Homo sapiens: one gene and its partners. The protein of the gene in region 1 interacts with the protein of each later gene in a biochemical or structural test. Each region holds a gene or a part of one and is shown in the gene's direction. Other genes may lie near its edges.

Region 1 (3,500 bases):
ATTTTCTTTTTCATATATGATTCAAATGATGTGAATCTTATAAAATCATTTGATACTGTGAAAGGATAGCAGTCTAAGTTCTTTAAGGTTTAGATTTAAAGAATTTCTGCTTTTTATTTTTATTTTTTTTCTGTTAGTGCAAAGCAGCTGGTCCGAGGAGAACCCAATGTTTCGTATATCTGTTCTCGGTACTATAGGGCACCAGAGTTGATCTTTGGAGCCACTGATTATACCTCTAGTATAGGTAAGTACAAATCTGAATATAATGCTCATAATTATTAATTGCTTCTTGATTTTGGTAATTTAGTACTACTAATCTGTACTTTTATTTCCATGGAAAGATGGATATATCCCATAATGTTTTTTTTCTTAAAGCTTGAGATGCAAACATGTATAGGCATACCTCATTTTATTATACTTTCCAGGCACTGCTTTTTTTTTTTTAACCTCTCAAAGGTTTGTGTCAACCCTGAGTCAAGCAAGTCTGCCCACACTAGTTTTATAAGAGCATGTGCTCACTTCATGTCTTTGTGTCATCATGTCTTTGTGTCACATTTTGGTAATTATTGCAACATTTCAAACATTCTCATTGTATCTGCTATGGTGATCTATGATCAGTGGTCTTTGATGTTACTATTGTAATTGTTTTGGTTTGCCACAAACCACAACAATATAAGACAGCAAACTTAATCGATCGGTGTTGTGTATGTTATGAATATTCCACCAGCTGGCCATTCCCCATCTCTCTTCCTATCCTCAGGCCTCCCTATTCCCTGAGAGACAACAATATTGAAATTAGGCCAATTAATAACTCTGCAGTTGCCTCTAAGTGTTCAAGTGAAAGGTACATTTTTCACTTTTAATCAAAAGCTAGAAATGATTAAGCTGAGCAAGGAAGGCATATCGAAATTGTGCCACACAGTTAGCCAAGTTGTGACCAGAAAGGAAAAGTTCTTAAAGGAAATTAAAGTGCTACTCCAATGAACAGATGAATGATAAGAAAGTGAAACAGCCTTATTGCTGTTACAGGGAAAGTTTTAGTGGTTTGGATAGATCAAACCAACCACAACATTCACTTGAGCCAAAGCCTAACCCAGCAAGGCCTGAACTCCCTTCAATTCTGTGAAGACAGAGAGGTGAGGAAGCTACACAAGAAAAATCTGAAGGTAGCAGAGGTTATTTCATGAGGATTAAGGGTAAAAAGCTGCACCATGCCATAAAAGTGCAAGGCAAGCAGCAAGTGCTGATGTAGAAGCTGCAGCAAGTTATCCAGAAGATCTAACTAAGATCATCGATGAAGGTGGCTACATTAAACATCAGAGTTTTAATGGAGACCAAATAGCCTTCTACTGAATTGGAAGAAGATACCGTTTAGGACTTTCATCTCTAGATTTTCTAGAGATGGAAGACTTCTTCTAGAGAGGAGAAGTGTCATTGCCTGGCTTCAAAGCTTCTAAGGACAGGTTGACTCTCTTGTGAGGGCCTAATGTAGCTGGTGACTTTTAAGTGCAAGCCACTGCTCATTTACCATTCCAGAAATCCTAGGGCCCTTAAGAATGATGCTGAATGTATTCTGCCTGTGCTGCATAAATGGAGCAACAATGAGTGGATGATAGCACATCTGTTTATAGCATGGTTCACTGAATATTTGAAGCCCACTGCTGAGACCTACTACTCCAGAGAAGAGTATTTCTTTCAAAATATTACTGCTTATGGACAGTGCAACTGGTCACCCAAAGGTTGAGAAATACATTTGTAAGGCTATAGCTGCCCTAGATAGTGATTAGTCTGATGGATCTGGGCAAAGTCAATTTTAAATCTTCTGGAAAGGATTCACCATTCTAGGTGTCACTAAGAACATTTGTGACTCAATCACATGAACAACATTTTGGAAGAAGTTGATTCCAAGCCTCATGGGTGACCTTGAGGCATTCTAGACTTCAGTGAAGGAAGTCTCTGCAGATGTTGTGGAACTAGCAAGAGAACTAGAATTAGAAGTGGAGCCTGAAGATGTGACTGAACTGCTGCAATCTCATGATGAAACATAAACAAGTTGCTTCTTTTATGGATGAGCAAAGAAAGTGGTTTCTTGAGGTGGAATCTACTAGTGGTTAAGACGCTGTGAATATTGTTGAAATGACAACAAAGGATTTAGAATATTACATAATTGTAGTTGATAAAGCAGCAGCAGGGGTTGAGAGGACTGACTCCCATTTTGAAAGTGGTTCTAATGTGGGTAAAATGCTATCAAAGAGCATCTCCTACTAGAGAAAAATCTTTCATGAAGGGAAGAGTCAGTTGATGTGGCAAACTTCATTGTCACTTTAAGAAATTACTCCAGCCACATCGTATAGCCTTCAGCAACTGCCACCCTGATCAGTCAGCAGCCATCGACATCAAGGCAAGACCCTCTGCCAGCAAAAAGATTACAACTCACTGAAGGCTTAGATGATCATTAGCATTTTTTTTTAGTAATAAAGTGTGTTTAAGTTAATGTATTACATTTATGTTTTTATACAATTCTATTATACAAGTAATAGACTACAGTATAGAGTGAACATACCTTTTATATGCACTGGGATACCAGAAAATTGGTGAGACTTGCTTTATTGTGTCTTATTGTTATGGTCTGGAACCAGTTCTGCAACATCTCTGACGTATGCCTGTATAGAATTTTTCAAATTCTACTTTTTAGAATTTAAGGTATACCTACTATTCTATTTTTCTTCCTTGGACTGTTAGAATCATAAAGCTAATAGCTTTTACCTTAAGAATTTAAATTAATTCTAAGTAACTTTTTTTTACTTTCTTATTTAAAATCCTCCTGAAATACTTCTGAGCATGATTATACTAGTTGGATAATTTATTAATTAATGTTATTTCATTAAGTTAATAATGAAAGTGATAGTATGGCCATATTGCTAACATTTCCTTCATGCCATCTCCATTATTTAATATAAAATCAGCTTAAATCACTAGTAGTTTTGCTAGATGCACTGATTCTGCAGAAGTATGCACCCAAGATGTTTAGTCATAGAAGGAACTGAATAGAGACCATTAGCTTTAATCATCATTGACCTTCTCAAGTCTTCACCCCAGATGTTTAGTGATAGGAGGAACTGAATAGAGACCATTAGCTTTAATCATCATTGACCTTCTCAAGTCTTCACCCCAGATGTTTAGTGATAGGAGGAACTGAATAGAGACCATTAGCTTTAATCATCATTGACCTTCTCAAGTCTTCACCCAAGATGTTTAGTGATAGAAGGAACTGAATAGAGACCATTAGCTTTAATCATCATTGACCTTCTCAAGTCGTCACCCAAGATGTTTAGTGATAGAAGGAACTGAATAGAGACCATTAGCTTTAATCATTATTGACCTTCTCTTTTACTACATCTTAGCCCACTAGCCAGGAGTGAACAGAGAGAGCATGATCAGCTGGACATGAATAGGAAGCTAACAAACAAGGAGCAACTTTAAGCTGGATGTGCAAGTGG
Region 2 (3,500 bases), on another chromosome or scaffold:
GGTTATTTTCAATTTCTTGTTACCTTTTTCCAGGAAACGCTATATTTTATGGTAATTATATTGTGTTGTAGAAAAATCACTAGTGTGTCCTCCAACATACTTGAAAAATACCTACTGTTTTCAATATTTTCTCATTTAAAAATTTATTATAATTTAGTCTTTTAGAAATATACCAGGCCAGGCATGGCGTCTCATGCCTGTTATCCTAGTACTTTGGAAGGCTGAGGCAGGAGGATCACTTCAGTCTTGGGGTTTGAGACCAGCCCGGGAAACATAACAAGACCCCATCTCTACAAAAAAAAAAAATTTGTTTTTTAATTAGGCATGTCCGGACACAGTGGCTCACACATGTGGCCAGCACTGTGGGAGGCCAAGGTGGGTGGATCACTTGAGGTCAGGAGTTCAAGACCAGCCTGGCCAATGTGGTGAAACCCCATCTCTACTAAAAATACAAAAATTTGCCAGGTGTGGTGGCGCATGCCTGTATTCCCAGCTACTCAGGAGGCTAAGGCAGGAAAATCACTTGAACTCGGGAGGCAGAGGTTGCAGTGAGCTGTGATCATGCCACTGTACTCCAGCCTGGGTGACAGAGCGAGACTCCGTCTCAAAAAAAAAAAAAAAAGATTAGGCATGGTGGCACACGCCTGTAGTCCCTAGCTACTCAGGAGGCTGAGGTGGGAGGATTGCTTGAGCCCAGGTGTTGGAGGCTGCAGTGAGCCATGATTATACCACTGTAGTCCAGCCTGGACAACAGAACGAGACCCTGTCTCTAAAAGTATATATGTACACATACCATAATACCCAGCTACTGAGGAGGCTGAGGCAGAAAGAGTGCTTGAGTCCAGGAGTTTGATGTCAGCCTGAGCAATATAGCAAGACCCTCACCTCTTAAAAAAAAAAAAAGTAGATTAAAAAAATACCACAATTGCTCAGGTAGATTGAAAAACAGGCATATAGTACTTATGGTACAGGACCAGCATGCATGCATGCATGCATTGATTGATTGATTGATTGATTGATTGAGACAGGGTCTCTCTCTGTCTCCCAGGCTGGAGTGCCTGGCCTTAAGTGATCTGCCCACCTTTGCTTCCCAAAGTGCTGAGATTACAGGTGTGAGCCACCATGTCAGCTGGCGAGGCTTTTTAAAAGATAGTTCCAAGTGTTACAGCTCTTTTAGGATTTGTCTAGCAGGCTTTCAGGTTTTTGCCAGAAACCACCCCCACCCCCACCCCCACCAAAAAAAAAAAAAAAAAAAAAAGATAGTTACAAATGTTTCCCAGAATAGTTGTCCCAATCGAATCTATTTTCTCATGTGTAGTGTATGGTTGTTTTCCTGTCACCACATTGCTGATTATTATTATTTTTAATTATAGAGACAGTAAAGTACAGTAGTTAAAAATGTGAGTTGGGGCTGGGTGCAGTGGCTCACACCTGTAATCCCAGCACTTTGGGAGGCCAAGGTGGGCGGATCACCTGAGGTCAGGAGTTCAAGACCAGCTTGGCCAACATGGCAAAACCCCGTCTCTACTAAAAATATATATATATAAGTTAGCCGGGCGTGGTGGCACATACCTGTAATCCCAGCTACTCGGGAGGCCAAGGCAGGAGAATCTCTTGAATCCAGGAGGTGGAGGTTGCAGTGAGCCAAGATCACACCATTGCACTCCAGCCTGGATGACAAGAGAGTGAGACTGTCTAAAAAAAAAAAACAAAGTGTGAGTTGTACAATGAGACTGCCTGGGATCACATACAAGCTTCATCCCTTACTAGTTGTATGACCTTAAGCAAGTCACTTAACCTTTCTGTGCCTCAGTTTTATCATCTGTAATGTGGGGAAAATAATAGTACCTGCCTCAGAGGGTTGTTTTGAGGATTAAATGCATTAATATGTGGAAAGGGCTTAATATAAGTTGTACATAGCATATGAAAACTGTTATGTTAAATCTATTAGCAGTTTTATATGTGAAAATAGCTTTGATTTTCATTTCTTGGATTATGAATCATGTTGAATAATCCTTTATATGCTTCCTGGATTCTTTTTTTTTCTTCCCCCCAGTCAGTTTCTGACTCTTCACATATTTACAGAGAGATCTTGGAACCTGGATGGGGGAATCCAGGAAACTCATGGATTCCTTCTTCCTGAATTTTATCACCCAGGTTCACAGCTGGAGCAAAGCTGTTGTTTCACCTGAGGCAGCTGCTGAAGGAGCTGAAGGGACTGAGTTGCCTGGTTAGCTATCAGGATGACCCTCTGACCAAAGGGGTGGACCTACGCAACGCCCAGGTCACAGAGTTGCTACAGCGTCTGCTCCACAGGTCTAGAGGCCAGGCAGGAACCCTGGGGGAAAGAAGGAACAAGGGAAGCCATTCTTACAGATACTGAGCTATATATTCTCTCCACACCTCTCTCTCCTCAGAGCCTTTGTGGTAGAAACCCAGCCCTGCATGCCCCAAACTCCCCATCGACCCCTCATCCTCAAGACTGGCAGCAAGTTCACCGTCCGAACAAGGTTGGCATTCCAGAACTCATTCCCACTTCCTTTTTCCAACCCTGCCACTGTGTATTTTCTGGCTTTACAGCTCTTCCCACTCTTGGCTTTTTCTTCTCTTTCCCTGCAATCTCCCTACCTCTTATAATCCCTCTTCTCTTTTTCAAACATCTAGTCTATCCGGAAGGTTGAGGTTGACCACTTTCCCCTATCCCCCTTCCTTCCCCCAGGCTGCTGGTGAGACTCCAGGAAGGCAATGAGTCACTGACTGTGGAAGTCTCCATTGACAGGTAAATTGGAGCAGGTGAAGGGTGGCCAGGACACGGGCTGCTGGGGTGGAGGAGATACTCACTCTTCACAACAGGGCCCTAGGGCTATCTCCTTCCTCCTTCCAATCCTACCTCACAGAAATTATAATTCATTTCTTTTGTTGAACACTTACTTTGTGACATGCAGCATGTCAGCTACTCATTTAATTGTCACACCAACCCCATGAATAAACTATTACCAGTGCACTGTACAAACAAAGATACAGGCTTAGAGAGACTGATTACATCTCTTCTCAAGGCCACATAGCTAGTGAGCTCAAGTCGGGTTTGAACCGAGGTCTGTCTGATCCCAAAGACGAAACTCCTAACTTCCATACTCTTTTGCCCAATGATTTTTTTAAATTTATTTCTTTTCAGGAATCCTCCTCAATTACAAGGGTAGGTGCTTGACAAGGACACTGCAAACATCTGTACAGTGTATGACCTGCAGAACCACATTCGGCAGCCCTGGTGGCACAAACAAGGAAGAGGGGGATTTGGGATATGGACAAAGGGAGATGGCGAGATCTGAAATGAAGTGGAACTTCTGTTTTTTTTTTTCTGCTGAGTTTTTAGAATAATTCCATTCCTTGTCTCCATGTATCTTCCTCCTGGAACAGCTTCCGGAAGTTCAACATTCTGACTTCAAACCAGAAAACTTTGACCCCCGAGAAGGGGCAGAGTCAGGGTTTGATTTGGGACT
Region 3 (3,500 bases), on another chromosome or scaffold:
GAAGGGCCTGTCTGCATGCCAGGGGGCTGAGTTCCATGTTGTAGGGGGTGCGGTGGGGTGGCACCAAGGGACATAGGCAGGTTAGATGTACTTTTTAGGAGGAAGGGGTCAGAGACCAAGGGCAATGGCTGTGAGCATGGGGCCGAGGTCACCTGACGATGGTGGCCTGACCCCTGCGGTGGAGGAGAGGCAGGAATGGAGCTACAAGAGTGGGTCCAGGAGGTGTCCTCACCTGCGGGGAGGCCGAGAGCTCCTCGTAGGCATAGGGCACACCTGACCAGCAGAACCCACAGCTGTGCCGCAGAAGGAGATAGAAGCCCCGTGGTGGTTTGATAGAGCTGGGGCTGGCTGGGGTGGCGGGTTTGTTGTATGCATTTTTTACTGCACGTAAAAGGCTTTACTGGGGAAGAATAGATTTCCTCTCTTTTTCCTGGAAGAGCCGAATGACTTAGACAATGGAATAGAAATGTAGGTCGAGCGTGTTCATGGAAGTGTTAAGATCTTCCTGGTTACAAGGGCACACACCTGAGGGGGAGTCACTTTGTTTGAAGCACCTGAGCGAGGCTGTTCGCTTTGTCCATTCTGGCTTTTGTTGCTTGTTAAATGAGGCTCCTTCTGTTGCAGAGGTGACCACAGTGACAGTGGCCAACGTGGGGGCTGCTGCAGACAATGTCTTCACCACGTCTGTGGCGAACGCGGCATCCATCTCAGGACATGTTCTGGTAAGCTGCTCCGAGGGGCACAGCCCAGGGCGGGTGGTGCCACGCTGGGGGCCTCCGGCTTCCCCGAGGCTCTCCCGGGGTTCAGCCCGCTGTGTGAACGTCTGCTCTGTGAGCTGGGGAGGGACGCACTGGCTCGCTCTGCTCTCAGAGGCCTTCGGGCTGTGCTGGAGGTGGGAGAAATTACAGCTGAGGTAGAAGCTGCCTCGGAAGGCCAGGTGAAGAGCCACACCTGTCAGATGGGCTTGTGGCCTGCGTTGGGCAGGGACTCCCAGCAGGCTGCTGTCCGGCCACAGTTCAGCCTCTGCCCGAGGCCCGGCCCTGCCTGTGCTCCTTATCCTATAGCTGCAGGGCCAGCTGAAAGAAGCAAGGCGTTTCCCTCCCCCATATCCTGTTCTCGTAGCATTTATGGTGCAGTCTCCCACGCCTGACTGCTGTCTACTTAGAAAACTGCTGAAAGCCAGTTGCATTTCAAATAGTGTCTGTGCCACCTTCAGAGCCCTTTTGTGATCATGTTTTATCAGCTTATTTTATGTTTTATGTGTGGGGCCTTCGGCGATCTGGGGACATCTGGTCAACCAGGGCAGGCAACCTTGTTTCCAAGTGGCAGATGCCAGGGTGGGTCCAGTCTCCAGAAAGGGATTTTCCCTGGGACCATTGGCACCTGTTACTTGTAGTCTTTTCAGCCTTGGTCACATACCTGGGACATCATCTCCATATACCTGAAAGCAGAGTGGTTATTTGTTTGTTTTGTTTTTGAGACGGGGTCTTGCTCTGTCACCTAGACTGGAGTGCAGTGGTGCAATCTCGGCTCATTGCAACCTCCGCCTCCTGGGTTCAAGCCATTCTTGTGCCTCAGCCTCCTGAGTAGCTGGGATTACAGGCGTGTGCCACCATGCCAGGCTAATTTTTGTATTTTTAGTAGAGACAGGTCACCATGTTGTCCAGGCTGGCCTCAAACTCCTGACCTCAGGTGCCCGCCTTGACCTCCCAAAGTGCTGGGATTATAAGGATTATAGGTGTGAGCCACCACACCCGGCCTGAAAGCACAGTTATTGTTAGAATGGCAGCAAACAGAAAACTTGTGAAGGACTTCAGTAAAAACATAAGAAACTTGGAAACCCCCTCCCCTGCCCTCCCCTCCCCTGCCCTCCCCTCCCCTGCCCTCCCCTCCCCTGCCCTCCCCTGCCCTCTCCTCCCCTCCCCTCCCCTGCCCTCCCCTGCCCTCCCCTGCCCTGCCCTCCCCTCCCCTCCTCTCCCCTCCCCTCCCCTTCCTTTTTGACAGAGTCTTTCTCTGTTGCCCAAACTGGAGTGCAGTGGAGTGATCTCAACTCACTGCAACCTCCACCTCCTGGGTTCCCCATGTTGTCCAGGTAGTCTCAAACTCCTGACCTCAGGTAGCTACCATCTCGGCCTCCCAATGTGCTGGGATTACAGGCATGAGCCACCGCACCCAGCCCAGAAACTTGGCTTATTTCTGGTGGGTGTGAGAACACACACAAGCTGACCCATGGCCACGTGGCGATCTGTGTTTTCAGTCAGGCTGCTCCTTCCTGGCAGTGGGGTCTGGGCACCTCCTCATTTCCTAGGAGGGGCTGAAGCCCAAGGCACCTGTGGGTGCCTGGAACGTGCTGACGTCATGGAGCGGGGGTGTCCTGCAAGTGCCTGAGGCTGGTTTTCTCCCCTCCAGGCCAGGAAGACCAGAGACTGGTGTGTTCCTGTTTGGAAACTGACAACAAAGCGGGGCACGGTCTGAAATAACTGTGTGTTCCCTTCCTAAGAAAAATACTCTGTGACTCTTAAACAAACACAAGACATTCCTTTTCTCCAGTGAAGAGCTGCAGGTCTTTGGTGACTCAGGCACAGCAGTAGGACCCCCTGTGTGAGCCCAGGCGTCAGGCATGTGTGTTGGGGGTCCCTCCACTCCATGATAAACTTCTACTCAAGTGCTCTGATTTGACAGTGACATTTTCAGATGTAGGAAACAGTTGTCAGCTGGGCGCGGTGGCTCCTGCCTGTAATCCCAGCACTCTGGGAGGCCGAGATGGGCAGATCATGAGGTCAGAAGATGGAGACCATCCTGGCTAACACGGTGAAACCCCATCTCTACTAAAAAAAAAAATGCAAAAAATTAGCCTGGTGTGGTGGTGGGCGTGTGTAGTCCCAGCTACTTAGGAGGCTGAGGCAGGACAATAGCGTGAACCCGGGAGGCGGAGCTTGCAGTGAGCCGAGATGGCGCCACTGCACTCCAGCCTGGGTGACAGAACGAGTCTCCGTCTCAAAAAAAAAAAAAAAAAAAAAGAAAAAGAAAAAAAGAAACAGTTGTTTTCTCACTTTGCCTCGGTTGGTTTTGTATTCAGAATGAAAACCTTGGGGCACCCAAAACACGGGGTTCAGAGAGGCCCCTGGAAGTCTCTGGTCTGCCCCACCGTGGGGTGAACAGAGCCTGCAGGCCAGAGTTTGCCGGATGACTTGGCCAAGGTAGGGTTCAAGTTCCAGCAGTGGTGTGTGGGCATGGAGACTCTGGCTTCCTGTGGCGGGGTCTGTGCCGCCTGAAGGCTGATTTTGGAAGCAGGCAGCAGTTGCAGCAGCTTCAGCCAGTGTGGAAATGTGGTTTTGAGGCCCTGGTCTCCAGTTGCCATCTGTAAGGAGGTCTGGAGGGCGGTCCTGCACAAGGCCTTGTCTGTGGCGGCCAACTCGGTCTGTTGGAAACTCTGCATGAAGACGGTGACCTTGTGGGAGCGGCTCAGGTGGAAGGGAGGGTGTTTCTTGTTTGTGGAG
Region 4 (3,500 bases), on another chromosome or scaffold:
TGTCTCTACCCAAAAAAAAAAATTAGCTGGGTGTGGTGATGCGTGCCTGTGGTTCTAGCTACTTGGGAGGCTGAGGCGGGAGGATCACTCGAGCCCAGGAAGTTGAGGCTGCACTCCAGCCTGTCTCAGAAAAAAAGAAAAATGTAAATGAAAAATATTGGCAAATATGTCCCTAAAACTTACTTATATCATCATTGATTATATATAACGTTCTAATTTCAGAGATGTTAATGTATGAAAAAATGTGTGTCCTAGATTCAATGAAATAAACTATGCCTTGAGTGTAGAGGGTAGATTGAGATGGCGTTATAGGTTTGGGCATTATCGATATATGATGTGGAAATGAATGAGATCACCCAGGGAGAAGAGATCTAAGATTAGCACTTGGAGAAACATTAACATTTTATGTAGTGAGCAAAGCTCCAAGGAGGTATTTGAAAAGAAGGGACTAACTTAAGGAAGTGTAAGAACCCAGAAGCAACAGAATGAAAGGATTTCAGTAACGTAGAGCAATTAATAGTGTTAAAAGTGCCATACAGGATGTATGTGTGTTCATTTTAAAGCTTGGAATCAGATTATAGAACCTCTTCTAGATGTTTGAAGGAAGTGGGTGGTTTTTGCTTTTTTCGCATTAATTGTAAATGATTTTACATGGCAGTATAACATACTAAGCAAATTATACCAAATTAGTCTATATGTCTTCAGTCTTGCTAATTTTAAATTTAAAATGTTATTGCCCACTTGTTTGTGGCAAAGGAGAAATAAAGGAATAGAATAAACTAACGTCAGTGTTTTTGTCTGTCAACTGTCTTTCAGTTTTTTATGAGAATAATCTTAGGGTGCCTTAAGTATTCTTGCATCAATGTGCCTAATTTTATCAATGAGAAAAGTAATCCAGATAATTTACGTGATTTCCTCTTAAGTTTACACATTTAGCTAATGACAAATGCAGGAATTAAATATATTTTCTCATCCAGGTGTCCGTCAGATCTCCCATGCTGTTTCTTCCTCCTTAAATTGAAGGTGATTACTTACGGAAATTTGGTTAAATGATTTGATAACTATGCTTTGTAGCATAGAGAGAAATAAACAGCTAGTTTAGGTAATTAGTTGTGAATATAAGAGAATACAGCAAATACTGGAAAAATGGATAATTTTTTTTAAAATATAGAAAATGTCATATATATTTTTTGATTCCTTTAATTTTTAGGATATGGTATGCTTTTTTTTCTTCCATTAGCAGTCTGAAAATATAAATATGTGTGAATACCAGTTTTATTGAAAATATTGAGAGTAGCTTCATATTTTAGAGTTATATAATGTTCTGTTTATTTTTTTTTTTAATAGAAAAAATGAATGCACCAAATCAGCCTCCACATAAAGACACTGGAAAAACAGTGGAGAATGTGGAAGAATACAGCTATAAGCAGGAGAAAAAGATCCGAGCAGCTCTTAGAACAACAGAGCGTGATCGTAAAAAAAATGTACAGTGCTCATTCATGTTAGACTCAGTGGGTGGATCTTTGCCAAAAAAATCAATTCCAGATGTGGATCTCAATAAGCCTTACCTCAGCCTTGGCTGTAGCAATGCTAAGCTTCCAGTATCTGTGCCCATGCCTATAGCCAGACCTGCACGCCAGACTTCTAGGACTGACTGTCCAGCAGATCGTTTAAAGTTTTTTGAAACTTTACGACTTTTGCTAAAGCTTACCTCAGTCTCAAAGAAAAAAGACAGGGAGCAAAGAGGACAAGAAAATACGTCTGGTTTCTGGCTTAACCGATCTAACGAACTGATCTGGTTAGAGCTACAAGCCTGGCATGCAGGACGGACAATTAACGACCAGGACTTCTTTTTATATACAGCCCGTCAAGCCATCCCAGATATTATTAATGAAATCCTTACTTTCAAAGTCGACTATGGGAGCTTCGCCTTTGTTAGAGATAGAGCTGGTTTTAATGGTACTTCAGTAGAAGGGCAGTGCAAAGCCACTCCTGGAACAAAGATTGTAGGTTACTCAACACATCATGAGCATCTCCAACGCCAGAGGGTCTCATTTGAGCAGGTAAAACGGATAATGGAGCTGCTAGAGTACATAGAAGCACTTTATCCATCATTGCAGGCTCTTCAGAAGGACTATGAAAAATATGCTGCAAAAGACTTCCAGGACAGGGTGCAGGCACTCTGTTTGTGGTTAAACATCACAAAAGACTTAAATCAGAAATTAAGGATTATGGGCACTGTTTTGGGCATCAAGAATTTATCAGACATTGGCTGGCCAGTGTTTGAAATCCCTTCCCCTCGACCATCCAAAGGTAATGAGCCGGAGTATGAGGGTGATGACACAGAAGGAGAATTAAAGGAGTTGGAAAGTAGTACGGATGAGAGTGAAGAAGAACAAATCTCTGATCCTAGGGTACCGGAAATCAGACAGCCCATAGATAACAGCTTCGACATCCAGTCGCGGGACTGCATATCCAAGAAGCTTGAGAGGCTCGAATCTGAGGATGATTCTCTTGGCTGGGGAGCACCAGACTGGAGCACAGAAGCAGGCTTTAGTAGACATTGTCTGACTTCTATTTATAGACCATTTGTAGACAAAGCACTGAAGCAGATGGGGTTAAGAAAGTTAATTTTAAGACTTCACAAGCTAATGGATGGTTCCTTGCAAAGGGCACGTATAGCATTGGTAAAGAACGATCGTCCAGTGGAGGTAGGTTTCCAGTAGGTATTAATACAATGATATCCTTAGTTCCATTTATTTATTGCAAATTATAATGTTGGTGTTATGTACTTTCATATTCTAATATTTTTGAACACAAATGGCAGTTATAAATTGCACATTTAAGCATTTCTGTAAAGTACTATGATTAAATAGATCTATGAAAACTGCATGAAATTTAGTGAATTAAGTGCAGGGTGGTATGTGGAGGGAATAAGTTCAACCACGTAAATACAGGATGGCAAAGGACAGGCTGGGTATAAACAAAAATGGAAGGAAGAAAGCCATAGTCATGGATGACCACAAGCTGCATGTGAGTCAGGAAAAAAGTCCACGTCACACTCAGGTGTTTATAAATGAATAGGGCGCCCAAGGTCAAGGAGAGAGTTCTTTCTCTATCCTTTGAAGTTGTTTTCTCTCTTTTGATTAGCATGTCAAGTTTTGGTCACTGTATTTTAAAGAGATGTAAATTATAGAGAAATGTCAGAATGATCAAGGGGAAAAAGCCAACACTATCTCGCAAGGTTAAAGTGTTCGGTGCAGGTGATGAAAGTTTAAGGGAAGTCCTGATTTTTGTCAGATATGTGTTTCGATATGTGTAGATTTTTGTGAGAGGAATGTGCCCACTAGAGGAAGTGACTTGAAAACAGTATAGATTTGCTTTTGATAGCTTGACGTGTTATAAATTCCTTATTGTAAAGGGTGGTAATACTAGACAAGGGCATTTTGTGGGATATCATTCTTGAGAGTCCAAAATAGTACTGTACAAGTGATTTTGCT
Region 5 (3,500 bases), on another chromosome or scaffold:
AGCTAGTTTTTCTAAATGTATACATTGAAGGAATACTGGCTGTGGAAGTATATTTGAGGGTTTTTTGGTTTCTTTACAGTTTGACTGTAATTACAATTTGATAAAATTTCAAATAGCTCTATTGCCCTACTTATAGAGTAATGTAAGAAACAATGTAACTTTTCATTATAAAAATTATTTTGCACTTGCCAAAGGAGATTAAGGAGTTAACTTTTTTTGTTTTAAACATTCCCCCAAAATATTTATCGTTTGGGGGTTGAAAAAAATGCAGCCCATTGAATTGTGAGTTTTAAACTGGAAAGGTCACAGATTAATGGCATACAATTAAACCTGTTTTTTTGTTTGTTTTTCTTCTCAAAATGTTAGCCCTAAACACTGAATTATTTTCAAATTTAGACACCCAGGTGCTTTTTAACTTTTGTACTTTACAGTTACTAACAAGCAGGTTTGCATAAGGCATTTTTGAGAGCCGGACTAGCAGGCCATAGGTAATTCCGTGTTGTCAATACGACTTTCCACACCAGGAGAGGAAACTCCCAGGGCCCAAAGGCTAAAGTGGAATGGTCAAGTCATTTGCCATTGAGTCATAGCCAGACCATCCCTATCTAGCAAGCCATGCCTGCTTCCTGGTTTGTGCATGTTGCCCTGTGTGCTCCTCCTTAGAACTAGAGAGCAGCAATGCCAGTGCCTTCACCAGCAAATCAAGGGATGGTAGGAAGGGATAGGGCTTTAGAGATCATCACTTACTGCCCTCATTTCACAAGAGGAAAAATGCCCAGTGAACTTAAGGAATTTCCTCCAGGTCACCTAAACTAGTTAGGAGCAGACTTAAGCTAGAACCAAGGTCCCCTGGCTCCTTTGCAGTTGGTGTCATTCATTAAAAAGAAGAATAAAAAGAACTCTTTTTTTCTTAAAGCTGTCATCATCTTGTGAAATATCAGTTTGCCCTTGACTAGGAAATTACATCAAATTAAACCATTCAGTCCCCTAGAATAGCAGTAGGGCTGGTTTATTCTGAAAACCTTTGCTGGGTCTTACATGCAGATAACTTGACTTTCCTTCTCTTCTCCTCCTTTCTGTCCTCAGGTGACGGCAATTGCCTCATGCATGCCACTTCTCAGTACATGTGGGGCGTTCAGGACACAGACTTGGTACTGAGGAAGGCGCTGTTCAGCACGCTCAAGGAAACAGACACACGCAACTTTAAATTCCGCTGGCAACTGGAGTCTCTCAAATCTCAGGAATTTGTTGAAACGGGGCTTTGCTATGATACTCGGGTAGGTTTTTCCCCCTAATTATCTACTAACAGAGCTCCATGGTGGGCATAGGGTACCCCTGGGCGAGTCCCTGCCCTCTGGTAGCATCTGATGGACTAGGTCACATGAATTTGGCTAAGCGAAGCATACTCAATGGAAAACACCAGAAACCTCCAGTGGGACTCACCCAAGGCTTTTGCCCTGCTTTTGGTTAGCAGATTCCCAGCTGTGGATCCGTTCCTGTAGCAGCGAGTCTTTTGATCATGGCCTTTTCCACTGGTGTTTTGTTGTTTTTCAGTTTGATTGCCCTTAGCTTTGCTGAGCCAGCCAGTAAGATTAAGACACGTGCCTCACCATCCTCAGTCACAAGTTTGGAATTTTTGTGAACATTTGGATAAGGGGCTGCAATATGATACCTCATCAGGGATTTTTTTTTAAAGCAGGTGCTGTCCCCGTCCTCCCCAACTTTTGAGTTTGCCTTGTAGTGGAAAAAAGTAAAGGAAGAAAACCGAAATGGGGAAAAAAGGGTGATCATTTGAATGATGGTTTCATGAAAGGGGAAAAAATAAGCTGAGTTATATAAATGAATAATTGTAGAGTGATGTCAGAATGACTTTTTAGTACAGGGAGTACAGGATACATTCAAGCTTTTTTTTCACCCCGCTCCCCTTAGAACTGGAATGATGAATGGGACAATCTTATCAAAATGGCTTCCACAGACACACCCATGGCCCGAAGTGGACTTCAGTACAACTCACTGGAAGAAATACACATATTTGTCCTTTGCAACATCCTCAGAAGGCCAATCATTGTCATTTCAGGTGAGATGCCTGCAGATCACGGATCTGTACTTAAATGCTTTCAGCCTTATGCCTTGGCTCCTGGAGAAAACCACACTGCCAAAGTTCAGGTAACAGAGTTCAATGGAATTTGATGAAAGTCACCTAAGGGCCTCATTTTCCTTTCTCTTTCTTTGAACAGACAAAATGCTAAGAAGTTTGGAATCAGGTTCCAATTTCGCCCCTTTGAAAGTGGGTGGAATTTACTTGCCTCTCCACTGGCCTGCCCAGGAATGCTACAGATACCCCATTGTTCTCGGCTATGACAGCCATCATTTTGTACCCTTGGTGACCCTGAAGGACAGTGGGCCTGGTGAGAAAACTGCATTAATTCACATCTATAACTAGACACTGAAACATCAGGGTTTTCCTTTTTGCTTCTTATTAAAACAGTCTTATTTAAGTATATTATTTTTATTTAAATATATTGTTCTGTGACTTGCTTGGTTAGTAAGAGTAATGCAGTAGCAGTAATCATAATACCCTCATATCTTTTTGAATATGACTTGGAAAGTACTTTCATACATGATAAATTAAGGCGCACAGTGCTCTTAATACAGTGCCTGGTATGGAGCAAGTAAACGCCTGTCAGGTTAGTTTTTTTCTTTTTGAGACAGGGTTTCCCTCCATTGTCCAGGCTGGAGTGCAGTGGCACAATCATGGCTCATTGCAGCCTCCACCCCCTGGGCTCAAGCAGTCTCTCGCTTTGGCCTCTCAAATTTACAGGCACGAGCCACCATGCCTGGCCTGTTAGCTGTTATTTTAATAGCCTCATGTGGAATAAGCACTGTGCTTTGGAAATATTATTTTACTGCATTTTTATCCTTTTAGCACTCTTGTGAGATGTAGGCCTTGGTAGCCTTATTTTACATATTAGACAGTTAAAGCTCAGAGAGGTCAACTAACCTGCCTAATGCCACACAGCTTGATAGTGACAAAGCCAGGATTCAAACTCAGGTCAGTCTGATTCTAAAGCCTGGGACTTTAACCAATAAGATCCACCACCTCCAGGCTGGTTAATGTTATGTGAGTTTCCTGGAAACAGTGCATTTTTATATTAGATTGTAGCACATTTTGTTTTCCCATTTGGGTTTAACTGTGGCTAAGAATACTTTTCTATTCTGTAAGTTATATCTTTTATACATTTTCAAAATGAGATCTACTTACCTATGGCCTTGTTTAGTAGAATACTGTTTTACTTATGTATTATTTTTTTCCTTAGAAATCCGAGCTGTTCCACTTGTTAACAGAGACCGGGGAAGATTTGAAGACTTAAAAGTTCACTTTTTGACAGATCCTGAAAATGAGATGAAGGAGAAGCTCTTAAAAGAGTACTTAATGGTGATAGAAATCCCCGTCCAAGGCTGGGACCATGGCACAACTCATCTCATCAATGCCGCAAAGT
Region 6 (2,782 bases), on another chromosome or scaffold:
CGATGTTAAAACAAATTAAAAACACCTAAGTGACTACCACTTATTTCTAAATCCTCACTATTTTTTTGTTGCTGTTGTTCAGAAGTTGTTAGTGATTTGCTATCATATATTATAAGATTTTTAGGTGTCTTTTAATGATACTGTCTAAGAATAATGACGTATTGTGAAATTTGTTAATATATATAATACTTAAAAATATGTGAGCATGAAACTATGCACCTATAAATACTAAATATGAAATTTTACCATTTTGCGATGTGTTTTATTCACTTGTGTTTGTATATAAATGGTGAGAATTAAAATAAAACGTTATCTCATTGCAAAAATATTTTATTTTTATCCCATCTCACTTTAATAATAAAAATCATGCTTATAAGCAACATGAATTAAGAACTGACACAAAGGACAAAAATATAAAGTTATTAATAGCCATTTGAAGAAGGAGGAATTTTAGAAGAGGTAGAGAAAATGGAACATTAACCCTACACTCGGAATTCCCTGAAGCAACACTGCCAGAAGTGTGTTTTGGTATGCACTGGTTCCTTAAGTGGCTGTGATTAATTATTGAAAGTGGGGTGTTGAAGACCCCAACTACTATTGTAGAGTGGTCTATTTCTCCCTTCAATCCTGTCAATGTTTGCTTTACGTATTTTGGGGAACTGTTGTTTGATGTGTATGTGTTTATAATTGTTATACATTTTTAATTGAGCCTTTTATTAACATATATTGTTATTTTTGTCTCGAAATAATTTTTTAGTTAAAATCTATTTTGTCTGATATTGGTGTGAATGCTGTACCTTTCTGACAATAAATAATATTCGACCATGAATAAAAAAAAAAAAAAAGTGGGTTCCCGGGAACTAAGCAGTGTAGAAGATGATTTTGACTACACCCTCCTTAGAGAGCCATAAGACACATTAGCACATATTAGCACATTCAAGGCTCTGAGAGAATGTGGTTAACTTTGTTTAACTCAGCATTCCTCACTTTTTTTTTTTAATCATCAGAAATTCTCTCTCTCTCTCTCTCTTTTTCTCTCGCTCTCTTTTTTTTTTTTTTTTTACAGGAAATGCCTTTAAACATCGTTGGAACTACCAGAGTCACCTTAAAGGAGATCAATTCTCTAGACTGATAAAAATTTCATGGCCTCCTTTAAATGTTGCCAAATATATGAATTCTAGGATTTTTCCTTAGGAAAGGTTTTTCTCTTTCAGGGAAGATCTATTAACTCCCCATGGGTGCTGAAAATAAACTTGATGGTGAAAAACTCTGTATAAATTAATTTAAAAATTATTTGGTTTCTCTTTTTAATTATTCTGGGGCATAGTCATTTCTAAAAGTCACTAGTAGAAAGTATAATTTCAAGACAGAATATTCTAGACATGCTAGCAGTTTATATGTATTCATGAGTAATGTGATATATATTGGGCGCTGGTGAGGAAGGAAGGAGGAATGAGTGACTATAAGGATGGTTACCATAGAAACTTCCTTTTTTACCTAATTGAAGAGAGACTACTACAGAGTGCTAAGCTGCATGTGTCATCTTACACTAGAGAGAAATGGTAAGTTTCTTGTTTTATTTAAGTTATGTTTAAGCAAGGAAAGGATTTGTTATTGAACAGTATATTTCAGGAAGGTTAGAAAGTGGCGGTTAGGATATATTTTAAATCTACCTAAAGCAGCATATTTTAAAAATTTAAAAGTATTGGTATTAAATTAAGAAATAGAGGACAGAACTAGACTGATAGCAGTGACCTAGAACAATTTGAGATTAGGAAAGTTGTGACCATGAATTTAAGGATTTATGTGGATACAAATTCTCCTTTAAAGTGTTTCTTCCCTTAATATTTATCTGACGGTAATTTTTGAGCAGTGAATTACTTTATATATCTTAATAGTTTATTTGGGACCAAACACTTAAACAAAAAGTTCTTTAAGTCATATAAGCCTTTTCAGGAAGCTTGTCTCATATTCACTCCCGAGACATTCACCTGCCAAGTGGCCTGAGGATCAATCCAGTCCTAGGTTTATTTTGCAGACTTACATTCTCCCAAGTTATTCAGCCTCATATGACTCCACGGTCGGCTTTACCAAAACAGTTCAGAGTGCACTTTGGCACACAATTGGGAACAGAACAATCTAATGTGTGGTTTGGTATTCCAAGTGGGGTCTTTTTCAGAATCTCTGCACTAGTGTGAGATGCAAACATGTTTCCTCATCTTTCTGGCTTATCCAGTATGTAGCTATTTGTGACATAATAAATATATACATATATGAAAATATGTATTTGGTTTCTGCCTCCAGTTCTTACAAAGAGCTCCTAAAACCCTTGTAATTTCCTGAGTAGTAGGGGTGCTAGGGTCATCTTTTGTTCTAATATTTGGTCTTTGACTCTGCTTTCTGACAGAGCTCCTTAGTCCCTGGGTGAGAGTAGCATCTTCTCTTCTAATGAAGTGACTCTTGCTGGGTTCCTGGATGGGGGCTGGTCACCAGAAAGGTCAAGCCATGATAAGAAGCTTGAAGCTTTTGGCCCCATTCACATCTTCTGGGGACGGGAGAGAAGAGGAGCTGGAGATTGAGTTAATAAGCAACAATGCTTCCATGATGAAGACTCCATAAAAATCCCTAAAAGACAGGATTCAGAGTGCTTTGAAATAGGTGAACATGCAGAGGTGCTGGGAATTGTGGTGTGTCCAGAGAAGGCATGCAAGCTCCCCACGCCTCCCCCATACCTTTCCCTGTGCATCTCTTCCATCTGGCTGTTCCTGAGTTGTATCCTTTT
Region 7 (3,500 bases), on another chromosome or scaffold:
ACTTGCAGGCACCCCTGGACGGCTGCCCCCAGCTCCCCAACTGCCTGCATTCTCCCCTGCCCTCCTCACTCTGTTGGAATAGCTGAGAATAGCCGATTTCTGGGCAGCCGGCCTCCTGTGTAGACTGTCCTGTGTAGACTGTCCTGTGTAGATTGTCTGTGTAGACTGTCCTGTGTAGATTGTCTGTGTAGACTGTCCTGTGTAGACTGTCCATGTAAACTGTCCTGTGTAGATTGTCTGTGTAGACTGTCCTGTGTAGACTGTCCTGTGTAGATTGTCTGTGTAGACTGTCTCTGTAGACCGTCGTGTATAGACTGTCCTGTGTAGACTGTCTCTGTAGACCGTCGTGTATAGACTGTCCTGTGTAGACTGTCTCTGTAGACCGTCCTGTGTAGATTGTCTGTGTAGACCATCCTGTGTAGACCATCCCATTTAGACCATCTGCCTGTGCAGGCGCAGGCCAGTGTTCAGCAGGGCCACAGGCTCCTCGGCCTCCCTGCCCTCGCTGCTCCCCAACACTGCCAACCCTGCTGCGGGGTCCAGGAGGAGATGGGCTGAGGATCGTGGAGACCAGCAGGAGCGTGTGGCCCAGGAGCAGGGAACTGGGTGTCCTTGGGCCTTGCCAGGTCCAGGCTCAGCTAGGACACGGCTCTCACAGCTGTCCTGGTTGCCTCCGGCCACAGAAGAAGGTGAGGGCTCCAGAGAGGCCACCTTTCCAAAAAAAGCACAGTCATGGCCCTAGAATGTAAAAAATCCAAGTGTTAAGAAGGAACACATCAAAGGAAACTTCAGCAGTGAAAACTTGAAGCATTAACCACGAAGCCTCTGCCTCCACCACACACAAAGAAACGGCTTTAGTTACTCGCAGAAAGTCTTCCTCTTAGGACAGCGCGTGTTTAAAATCATAGGGGTTTGGTTTGTTTTGTTTTGGGGTTGGGGTTTTTTGGGGGTTTTTTACCCTTGCCTACTTTTTAAAAAATGAAAGTGTTTATTTGCCCAACAATAACAGACAGGGAGCTTGCCTAAGTGTTCTGTTGATGATATAATGTATCTTGTCTTAGAAAAAAACTTTTTCAGTGAAAGGTGGTTTTTAAATTTTTTCTTCCCTCCTTAGTAGCTTGATTAGTAAAATGTGAAGTTACAAATGTGAAGCAAACCCCCACCCTTCACCACTAGTCAGCAATTTTGAGTAAAGAAACAAAGCATCAGGTGCTCACAGCACACACTGTCTTAGAGGGAAGGGGAAGCCTGGTGGCCTGTGGAAGCCTTCAGCATAGCTCCATCTGCAGGCTTCTGACCCTCAGCACTACTGACACTTGGGCTGGATCATTGTCTGCTAGGGATCCGGGCAGGGAGTGGCTGTGCTGGGCGCTGTAGGAAGTTTAGCAGCATCTCTGGCCTCTATCCACCAGATGCCAGTAGCACCCCCTCCCCAGATGTGGCAGTCAGATGTGTTTCTGTCTAGACTCCAGACTTTGTCCAACGTCCCCTGGTAGGCCAAATTGCCCCCGGTTGAGAACCACCGCTCTAGATGGTATTGAGGGTTGGGAATTTTAAATCAAGACATTTATTCAGAAATTACCAGATATAGTAGCATTTGCTTCTTATTTATTTCTTTGTTGCTAAGTGTTTGGCAAAACCTCTTTGCTGTGAGCACAAGGTTTGCTTTAGCAATTGTTGTCACATTACAGCAAGGAGTGGTGTCCAGCGCTGTAGTTATGTATTTGAGCAGTGTCCAGTGCTGTAGTTATGTGTTCCAGCCTCACCAGGCCCTGTGCTTCATTGTCTCCCACTCAAGACTGACCACAAATGGCCCACAGATCCACTGTGACAACCTTTCCCTTTGGGTTACTGTGGTGGCATCGAGAACATGGCTGGTTGGCTTTGCTGTAGTTTACTGTGATAACTGTGCCAGCAGTCCCTGCTTTCCTTTGTTAAGTATCCCATTCCACTGGAGGATTACTTGGGCGTGCAGATTGGCATGAAAAGCAATGTATGGTTTGAGATTGTTAAAGTTTCTTTGGGATCAACATTTTCAATTCTGTATCAGCATTATCCCTCCCAGAGGGCTGGCTGGGAGAAATCATGAGAAGTTACAGTATCTTATTTGCTCAGCTAATCTAATTATAAATGATCCACACAGCTTGTGGTAAAACCAGCTTTTGGGGAGTTTTCATTTAATGCATACTTGTCTTCTGATTTCCTTCCTTCACCAAATAGTGTAGGATGCTCCCTCTTATTTTTGGCAAACATGCCTGTTATCTTTTGGGACCCTGGGCTTCCTGGAAACCAGTTATGCAGAAGATGATTGTGTGTGTTAGACTGGGGTCATCCAGATGGCTAGAGTTCTCACTGGTTCTGTTTAAGGATTGACTTTAGACACCTCAGTGTAGGCTGCACCATGGCGTAAGGGTTGGGATTGTTGTTTAGAAGGGGGAAGTAAGCAAGGTGAGTTTAATTGGCCATTGCAGAATCTCACCCGTATCTCCCTCCTGAAATCCTCACTAAAGCTGCCGTTTGCTTTCAGGTGCTTTCATGCACAAGACACTGCATTTTGTATCACAGGGTCCATATAATTCATTTTTCTCTCGTACTTAGTTCTCTGTGTTAAGAATTACTTACTTAGTTCTCTGTGTTAATAATTTTTGGCGAAACCAAATTACCCGTCACAGGGTTACTGTAGATGTCTTTCATAGGTTTTCCAAACACCACTTGCCCACTTGTTTGGGAAGGCCCCAAGGACTGTTTAACATCTGCCTTCATGGTGGAAACAGCAACTATGAGAGATGCTAGCATGTTGGCACTGCCATGTTCCTCTGGTACCAGCCCAAGATAGGACTCAATTTGAGGCCTGGTGAAGTACTGTGTTCTAATAAAAATCCATCTACTTTTCATGGCCGTATATATCAATGTAATAGGGTAACTGGAAATGTGATCTTGTGCCTTTTAAAAATTTTGTGTGTTTAAAACAAAAATTTCTATTGGAAATGACAGAGCATAGCTTGTTGCTGTAGACACCTGAGAGTCCTTAAAAATAAATATTGGGTTATTGACACTTAGTTGCATGACAGAATTCCTCACTTGTACAGTTCCAAAGTCTTAGTCTTTACCCAGATTACAGAGGGTTATTAAGCATTAGGTTTGGTTTTGAAAGTGAGTGCTTGCTGTCTGGAGGTGAGCTTTAAGACTCGTCTGCCCTGCTTATGAGATGAGGAAGGGTGGCCTCTTCCTCCTGCATTTCTGTTCTTCGCTTCCTTCTCTGTCTGCTCACTCTGTGGAATGCCCACCCCAGCACGGGTGGGGTGGAACCTGTCAGATCAGTCTCTTGTTTCTGGGGTCTTGAGGCATTATAAGATCTAGTTGTTAGAAGTGTGGGATTAATTCATCTTTTCACATTCTTCTAAGTTCCTGCTTTTAGCTGCCACACCCACTTTGGCTAAGTGGGGGTCTTGCCATGTAATTAGCGCCTCCATGCCAAGTGGCAGAATTGCTTCAATGGT

The links.
Region 2: of the proteins of GSK3B (region 1) and STAT2, one has a biochemical effect on the other in vitro, tested with the Homo sapiens proteins (one study listed by BioGRID).
Region 3: of the proteins of GSK3B (region 1) and DEAF1, one has a biochemical effect on the other in vitro, tested with the Homo sapiens proteins (one large-scale study listed by BioGRID).
Region 4: of the proteins of GSK3B (region 1) and MAP3K4, one has a biochemical effect on the other in vitro, tested with the Homo sapiens proteins (one study listed by BioGRID).
Region 5: the proteins of GSK3B (region 1) and TNFAIP3 form a complex in vitro, tested with the Homo sapiens proteins (one study listed by BioGRID).
Region 6: the proteins of GSK3B (region 1) and SNCA form a complex in vitro, tested with the Homo sapiens proteins (one study listed by BioGRID and IntAct).
Region 7: of the proteins of GSK3B (region 1) and PTPN1, one has a biochemical effect on the other in vitro, tested with the Homo sapiens proteins (one study listed by BioGRID and IntAct).

Annotation. Positions count from the first base shown.
Region 1 is NC_000003.12:119,909,448-119,912,947, reverse strand, and holds part of GSK3B (glycogen synthase kinase-3 beta), read left to right. Parts: intron 1-137; coding exon 138-244; intron 245-3,500. UniProt on the Homo sapiens protein: Constitutively active protein kinase that acts as a negative regulator in the hormonal control of glucose homeostasis, Wnt signaling and regulation of transcription factors and microtubules, by phosphorylating and inactivating glycogen synthase (GYS1 or GYS2), EIF2B, CTNNB1/beta-catenin, APC, AXIN1, DPYSL2/CRMP2, JUN, NFATC1/NFATC, MAPT/TAU and MACF1.
Region 2 is NC_000012.12:56,350,108-56,353,607, reverse strand, and holds part of STAT2 (signal transducer and activator of transcription 2), read left to right. Parts: intron 1-2,157; coding exon 2,158-2,316; intron 2,317-2,417; coding exon 2,418-2,510; intron 2,511-2,719; coding exon 2,720-2,779; intron 2,780-3,175; coding exon 3,176-3,196; intron 3,197-3,417; coding exon 3,418-3,500. UniProt on the Homo sapiens protein: Signal transducer and activator of transcription that mediates signaling by type I interferons (IFN-alpha and IFN-beta).
Region 3 is NC_000011.10:688,723-692,222, reverse strand, and holds part of DEAF1 (deformed epidermal autoregulatory factor 1 homolog), read left to right. Parts: intron 1-624; coding exon 625-722; intron 723-3,500. UniProt on the Homo sapiens protein: Transcription factor that binds to sequence with multiple copies of 5'-TTC[CG]G-3' present in its own promoter and that of the HNRPA2B1 gene. Down-regulates transcription of these genes.
Region 4 is NC_000006.12:161,047,269-161,050,768, forward strand, and holds part of MAP3K4 (mitogen-activated protein kinase kinase kinase 4), read left to right. Parts: intron 1-1,347; coding exon 1,348-2,711; intron 2,712-3,500. UniProt on the Homo sapiens protein: Component of a protein kinase signal transduction cascade. Activates the CSBP2, P38 and JNK MAPK pathways, but not the ERK pathway. Specifically phosphorylates and activates MAP2K4 and MAP2K6.
Region 5 is NC_000006.12:137,873,759-137,877,258, forward strand, and holds part of TNFAIP3 (tumor necrosis factor alpha-induced protein 3), read left to right. Parts: intron 1-1,086; coding exon 1,087-1,277; intron 1,278-1,929; coding exon 1,930-2,077; intron 2,078-2,237; coding exon 2,238-2,408; intron 2,409-3,317; coding exon 3,318-3,498; intron 3,499-3,500. UniProt on the Homo sapiens protein: Ubiquitin-editing enzyme that contains both ubiquitin ligase and deubiquitinase activities.
Region 6 is NC_000004.12:89,723,599-89,726,380, reverse strand, and holds the end of SNCA (alpha-synuclein), read left to right. Parts: 3' UTR 1-2,282; downstream 2,283-2,782. UniProt on the Homo sapiens protein: Neuronal protein that plays several roles in synaptic activity such as regulation of synaptic vesicle trafficking and subsequent neurotransmitter release.
Region 7 is NC_000020.11:50,569,383-50,572,882, forward strand, and holds part of PTPN1 (tyrosine-protein phosphatase non-receptor type 1), read left to right. Parts: intron 1-3,500. UniProt on the Homo sapiens protein: Tyrosine-protein phosphatase which acts as a regulator of endoplasmic reticulum unfolded protein response. Mediates dephosphorylation of EIF2AK3/PERK; inactivating the protein kinase activity of EIF2AK3/PERK.